Homo sapiens: one gene and its partner. The protein of the gene in region 1 interacts with the protein of each later gene in a biochemical or structural test. Each region holds a gene or a part of one and is shown in the gene's direction. Other genes may lie near its edges.

What was found. Proteins that work in one complex are often made in the same cells at the same time.
Region 2: of the proteins of PTPN11 (region 1) and MAP3K5, one has a biochemical effect on the other in vitro, tested with the Homo sapiens proteins (one study listed by BioGRID).

Annotation. Positions count from the first base shown.
Region 1 is NC_000012.12:112,484,947-112,488,446, forward strand, and holds part of PTPN11 (tyrosine-protein phosphatase non-receptor type 11), read left to right. Parts: intron 1-1,516; coding exon of another isoform or gene 1,517-1,528; coding exon 1,529-1,683; coding exon of another isoform or gene 1,684-1,687; exon of another isoform or gene 1,688-1,977; intron 1,978-3,496; coding exon 3,497-3,500. UniProt on the Homo sapiens protein: Acts downstream of various receptor and cytoplasmic protein tyrosine kinases to participate in the signal transduction from the cell surface to the nucleus. Positively regulates MAPK signal transduction pathway. Dephosphorylates GAB1, ARHGAP35 and EGFR.
Region 2 is NC_000006.12:136,694,978-136,698,477, reverse strand, and holds part of MAP3K5 (mitogen-activated protein kinase kinase kinase 5), read left to right. Parts: intron 1-1,090; coding exon 1,091-1,259; intron 1,260-2,420; coding exon 2,421-2,527; intron 2,528-3,500. UniProt on the Homo sapiens protein: Serine/threonine kinase which acts as an essential component of the MAP kinase signal transduction pathway. Plays an important role in the cascades of cellular responses evoked by changes in the environment.

The DNA of each region.
Region 1 (3,500 bases):
CCTTTTACATCCCTTTTAAAAATGTCACTTAAGGCTGGGCAAAGTGGCTCATGCCTGTAATCCCTGCACTTTGGGAGGCTGAAGTGGGTGGATTACTTGAGGTCAGGAGTACAAGACCAGCCTGGCCAACATGGCGAAACTCCTTCTCTACTAAAATTAGCTGGATGTGGTACATGCCTGTAGTCCCAGCTACTCGGGAGTCGAGTCTGAGGCCCAAGAATTGCTTGAATCGGGGAGGCGTAGGTTGCAGTGAGCTGTGATCAGGTCACTGTGCACCAGCCTGGATGACAGAGTGAGACTCTGTCTCAAAAAAAAAAGTCACTTAGCTTAGATTGTCTCTACATATATAGGAAGAAGATGTAGGAATGAATGGTGCTGCTACAATTACGTCATCTGGATAGACCCAGAAACATGATACTTTTTGGTTTTCTGTAGCCTTGGTGCCATTGTTGATCTTTATTAATTATCATTATCCTCAAAATAGCCATAATGTGCTGAGTCTCTTCCTATTTGCTGGGCAGAGGCTGAGTATTTCAGCGAGCTCACTGAGTCCTTAAAATTGCATTATGATAGAGAGAAAGAGATTATTATTTGCATTTTGCAAAATGAAGAAATTGAGGTTTAGAGATACCCAAGGGCCACGTGAGTGTGAGTGCCTGGAATTGGAGCCTAAATCTAGTCATCTGATAGCAAAGCCTGTTTTCTTATCTGCTTTGCATTAAATATAAGTTTAAAATAGAACAATACTGGCCAGGCTGGGTGGCTCACGCCTGTAATCCCAGCACTTTGGGAGGTCGAGGCAGGCAGATCACCTGAGGTCAGGAGTTTGCAACCAGCCTGGCCAATATGGCGAAAGAAACCCCATCGCTACTAAAAATACAAAAATTAGCCAGGCATGGTGATGTGTGCCTGTAATCCCAGCTACTTGGGAGGCTGAGGCAGGAGAATGGCTTGAACCCGGGAGGCAGAGGTTGCAGTGAGCCAAGATCACGCCACTGCACTCCAGCCTGGGCAACAGAGTAAGACTCTGTCTTGGAAAAAAAAAAAAAAAAGAATGATACTATAGTCTGTGTTTATATGGTGGGGAAGGTTGAGTATCAAAAAAATAACAAAGAGGAATGAATGTCTTAAGTGAATGCCTGTTTCCCCATCTGCTTCCTCTTCTGCTGGGAGGAGAGACCTGGATCCCTAGAGGTTTCAGTTGCCTCCAGAGCTGAGTGCCACAGGGATGCAGGGGAATAGGGATGTTACCTGTCGCTGGTAATTCAGAGAGATGATTCAGGGTATAGTTACCTGAAAGAACAAATTGCCATGCCAGACGTCTTGGTTCTTATGACAGAGGCAAAGAGTTGCCTCCAGGATTGCCCAAAAGGAGACGAGTTCTGGGAACCTCACGAAGAGGACCTTTCAGTGGAACCTGGGGAGATTCTCTTCCTCTCCATTGGATTTAGGAAAGCTTAGAACCGGGTGATTCCTCAACCTCTTGATTTATTTAATTCTTTTCTGGTTTTTCTTGGCTCTACTCCAGGGGAATACGGAGAGAACGGTCTGGCAATACCACTTTCGGACCTGGCCGGACCACGGCGTGCCCAGCGACCCTGGGGGCGTGCTGGACTTCCTGGAGGAGGTGCACCATAAGCAGGAGAGCATCATGGATGCAGGGCCGGTCGTGGTGCACTGCAGGTGACAGCTCCTGCTGCCCCTCTAGGCCACAGCCTGTCCCTGTCTCCTAGCGCCCAGGGCTTGCTTTTACCTACCCACTCCTAGCTCTTTAACTGTAGGAAGAATTTAATATCTGTTTGAGGCATAGAGCAACTGCATTGAGGGACATTTTGATCCCAAGGCATATTTCTCCTAGACCCTACAGCACTGCCATTGGCCATGGCCATGGCAACATGCTCAGTTAAAACAGCAAAGACTAAGTCAGCATTATCTCTGAGTCCACCAGAAGTTGTGCATTAAACAACTTCATCCTGGCTCTGCAGTTTCTCCTTATTCTTCATGATGTTTGCTTTGTAGCTGTTGACTGCTTTGTAGGTATTGAGGTGGTGGGGGTGTGGTGGAAATAGGCCTGACTCTTGAGGATCCCTTAAGTCATTTTTGCTTGGTTCTCTTTTTCCTTCTTTTCTTCTACTCTTCTATGATTCATCTCTTTGATTGTGATTCTGTTCTCTCTCTCTCTCTCTCTTTTTTTTTTTTCGTTTTTGAGACAGAGTCTTGTTTTGTTGCCCAGGCTAGAGTGCAGTGGTGCCATCTTGGCTCACTGCAACCTCCGCCTCCCGGGTTCAGGCCATTCTCCTGCCTCAGCCTCCCAAGTAGCTGGGATTACAGGCATCTGACACTACGCCCGGCTAATTTTTGTATTTTAATAGAGACAAGGTTTTGTCATGTTGGCCAGGCTGGTCTCGAACCCTTGACCTCAGGTGATCCACCTGCCTTGTCCTTCCAAAGTGCTGGGATTACAGGTATGAGCTACCATGCCCGGCCCATTCTGTTCTCTTCTACCATAAATATATTTCTCCCCTAACACTATATTTGTTTGCTTCACAAGATTCCAGCTGCTTTTCCACCAAGGCCTTTGATGGAAGCTGTGCTGTGACCTCTGTAATGAGTCTGTGGGCTGCTGATTCTCCAGTTTGGGCTTCATGATTATACTGGGGAATATTGGGTTTCCTAAATCTCATTCATTTCTTGGGCAAGTAGATATATGTGAAAGTGTTTATTTGTCCAGTTGTTAAAGAAGCTACCATTTATTGAGCCAGCCTCTGAGCACAATGTTTTTTGTTTTGTTTTGTTTTTAATTTTTAAAATTATTTACTTCTTCTATTTCAATAACTTTATTATTATTATTTTTTGAGACAGAGTCTCACTCTGTCACCCAGGCTAGAGTGCAATTGAGCGATCTTAGCTCACTGCAACCTCTGCTTTCTGGGTTCAAGCAATTCTCATGTCTCAGCCTCCCGAGTAGCTGGGATTACTGGTACGTGACAACATGCCTGGCTAATTTTTGTGTTTTTAGTAGAGACGAGGTTTTGCTATGTTGGCCAGGCTGGTCTGGAACTCCTGGCCCCAAGTGATCCTCCTGCCTCGGCCTCCCAAAGTGCTGGTATTATAGGTGAGAGCCACTGCGCCCGGCCCTCTTTCAGTAATTTTGATGTATTTTTTTGTATATGATTCCTGTTTCATTCTGTCCAACCAGCACTCTGTATGGTATGTGCTGTTGTCCCCATTTCACAGATGCAGAAATTAAGGGTCAGAGAGGTTAAGGGACTTACCTCAGGCACGTTGTACTGGAGAAGCTGAACTCCAAGAGCAGGTTTGGGCTGACTCCAAAGCCCTATGCTTTTTGCCAACATATTTTCAAACATAAATAGACAATTTTATAAATAGCTCCAAAGAGTAGACATTGTTTCTGTTGATATTAATGGCTTGGTTTTGAGTCTGAAACCCCCATGAATGATTCTGTTGTCCCTGCTTTTTGTCCTTCTGCCCGCAGTGCT
Region 2 (3,500 bases), on another chromosome or scaffold:
TTAATAATGCCATTTGGTGATGACAATAAAGTGTTATTCTACATCTTTATTTGTGCATGATATCAGGTGCTCCTGAGATATCAGTATACAGCTAAGAACTAGGGGGAAAATGTTTATTATCCTCCAAGTAGATAAAATAGATGCCACATAATACATTTTATTCACAGAACAGCAACTTGAAATCAGCAAAAAATTAAAAAGTCTACTAACCGCTTTATAGTGATGGTAGAACTAAAAATATATACAAAGCAAGTACAGAAACAATACCAGGATAAATGTCCAGGGACTTCTAGTGTAAGGGCAAGAACAATTCAACTTTAATTAACTCTTAACTCTAATTGTTCTTTCAGTGAAGAACAATTATTTATGTTAATAAATGATAGGCTGAGTCAGGAAGTTAAGGTTATATTATGTTCAAATCATAGGTACATCACGGCCAGTGCCGTGGCTCATGCCTGTAATCCCAGCATTTTGGGAGGCCGAGGTGGGCAGATCACTTGAGATCAGGAGTTCGAGACCAGCCTGGCCAACATGCCGAAACCCTGTCTCTACCAAAAATACAAAAATTAGCCAGGTGTGGTGGTGCACACCTGTAATCCCAGCTACTCACAAGGCTGAGGCAAGAGAATTGCTTGAACCCAGGAGATGGAGGTTGCAGTGAGCCAAGATCATGCCAGTATACTCTAGTCTGGGCAACAGAGTGAGACTCTGTCTCAAAAACAAAAACAACAAACAAACAAAAAATCATAGGTACATCTAATTTATTTAGAACAATTTGTACTGGAAACAGTAAAATGGAAAACAAAGTTTTGGCATTTTAAGTGGTTTTTTGCAGGAAAATTTATTAATATGGAGTACCTTTACCTTTAATTCTTTCTGAAGGCAGAGTAATAAAAGAAATACATTGGCTTCTAAATTTCTTAATAATGCCAGATATGTAAGATATTTATTTAGGCATCTGAATGAACTGAAAACTACAAATGCTTTATAGCTAATGCTGCAATATCATTCATGTCTTTATTAAAATTATTGCTTTTCATTGAAATTGTTTCTAATGTCAAACTCTTTGAAATGTGTGTGTTTTTACCAGCCAGTACTTCCGGGAATCTATACTCAATGACATCAGGAAAGCTCGTAATTTATACACTGGTAAAGAATTGGCAGCTGAGTTGGCAAGAATTCGGCAGCGAGTAGATAATATCGAAGTCTTGACAGCAGATATTGTCATAAATCTGTTACTTTCCTACAGAGATATCCAGGTGAGAAGATGTTTAAAGTGAAATCTTTGTTGTGTAGCATGTTGGAGGGATAAGGGAGTATTAACCTCAAATTTCAGTTTGCTGGTAAGCAGTTCATGTTACTACACGTAATTTTTTATTGACTCTCTTAAGCTTTCCATCCTATAATTTTATGATGAATGAAAAAGACTCATGTGAGTTAACCATCAGTGATTGTGAAAGACTTGTATGGTAAAGGCCTGACTTTTTCCTCCAAAAGAACAAAAAGAAAAATCTGCTGGCACAGCGAACCTGTGGACACAGTCTATTCTACTGTTAGCCTCAGGCACACCTGTCAGTGAAAGCTTTGTTTTGGCAAATAGCAGACATTTTTAGAGCTTTCTGGACATACCTTTTATCCCTTGAAATTGTATTGCTTGAAATTGATAGTGCTGAATCTAACTCGCCTGAAGGAAAAAATATGTAATTGATTACCTACAGAAATAACTTTAAAAATATGTAATGTAAAACACACTAACAGGTTATATCATTTTTATTGACATGTCTTAAAATTTTAAAAATAGGGTAAGTGGAATAAAATCCTCTCCAAGTTAGGGATTTGCTCTTAGGTTTTAATAGTAAAATTTAAATGACATCTGGTTTCTCCTTTCCATTCCTAGCCTTTCAGGTCTGTGTAAAGGCTTCATGTGCTCAAGACAGACTCACATCCATGGAGGGCTGTGGCACATAGGATCCTGTGGCTAGAGTGCTTACTCATGTGACATGAAACTGTGTTGCTACTTGTAACAGAAGTTCAACCCATTGCCTCATGTCCTTGACATTTTTATTTCCCTGAAATTGTTAGAACACTGCATACCGGGAATCTGGCTCTATGGGGAAATAAATCACCCATATTTAGACAGTAGAGCACTATCATGCTTGGTGTTTTTGTTTCTTTTGCTTTTTTAGTTTTTGTTCAACATGGTAACTGTATGTTTCTAATGTTTTTATATATACGATCTAAACCTTTTAGAAGAAAAACAACAAAAACTGTTTATTCTAGGTTCTTCAAAGTGTTCTGTGGATTCTAGTGTCTTTTTAATGTGTTTCTTGAATTCAGATATCTGGTTGTCAAAAGACACGTTATTGTGAGAATTTTCTCCTAATGGTTTAATTCTGTGCTATTCTCATCTAATTTGAAAGGACTATGATTCTATTGTGAAGCTGGTAGAGACTTTAGAAAAACTGCCAACCTTTGATTTGGCCTCCCATCACCATGTGAAGTTTCATTATGCATTTGCACTGAATAGGTAAGAAGAAAAAGTTCCCTTCCAGAATGCGTTAACATATTATTGTGTAACCTGCAATTCTTTACAGAGAATGTGTTCACTGCAGCATTGCAAGAAGTCCCTATTAAAATGTAATATTAGCATATCTGCTTCAGCCCCATGAAATATAGGAAGCATGCATTCTCATTTTTTTCTGATTTATTTTTCAGTAAAAAAAAAGTCGCACACTGTTGGTATATTTAAATTCTTACAGGTTTTCTGCTCTGTCAAAGTTTGTATTTGCTATTCATATTTTTTAGAATTGTAAAAGTTACATGAATATGATGTTATCTTTAAGCAAATACACTCAACACCAGATGGTCATTCACACAAAAGTTTTCACTAGAGTAAGGATGGTTATGTCTAGGTGAACATAGTGTTAGATAGTTATTACCAAGGATAAAAAGGAATTTCTTGGACAGAAGATTTGAAGTAGTAATTGAGAATAGAAATGATACCTTTTTTATAATAGCTTTATTGAAACATATTTCACAGGCTGGGCGTGGTGGCTCACTCCTGCAATCCTAGCACTTTGAGAGGCCAAGGTGGTCGGATTGCCTGAGCTCAGGAGTTCGAGAGCAGCCTGGGCAACACGGTGAAACCCCGTCTCTACTAAAATACAAAAAAATTAGCCAGGTGTGGCAGTGTGCACCTGTAGTTCCGGCTACTCGGGAGGCTGAGGCAGGAGAATCGCTTGAACCTGGGAGGCAGAAGTTGCAGTGAGCCAAGATCATGCCACTGCCCTCCAGCCTGGGCAACAGAGCAAGACTCTGTCTCCAAACAAACAAACTAAATATATTTCATCAAAACAATAAATTTTAAAACATTTTCATCACTCCACAAGGAAACCCTGTACCCATTAGCAGCCCCCCTTCCATTTCCCTCCCAAATCCCCCAACTCTAGGCAACCACGAATCTACTTTCAGTCTTTACAGATTTGCCTATTCTGGACATT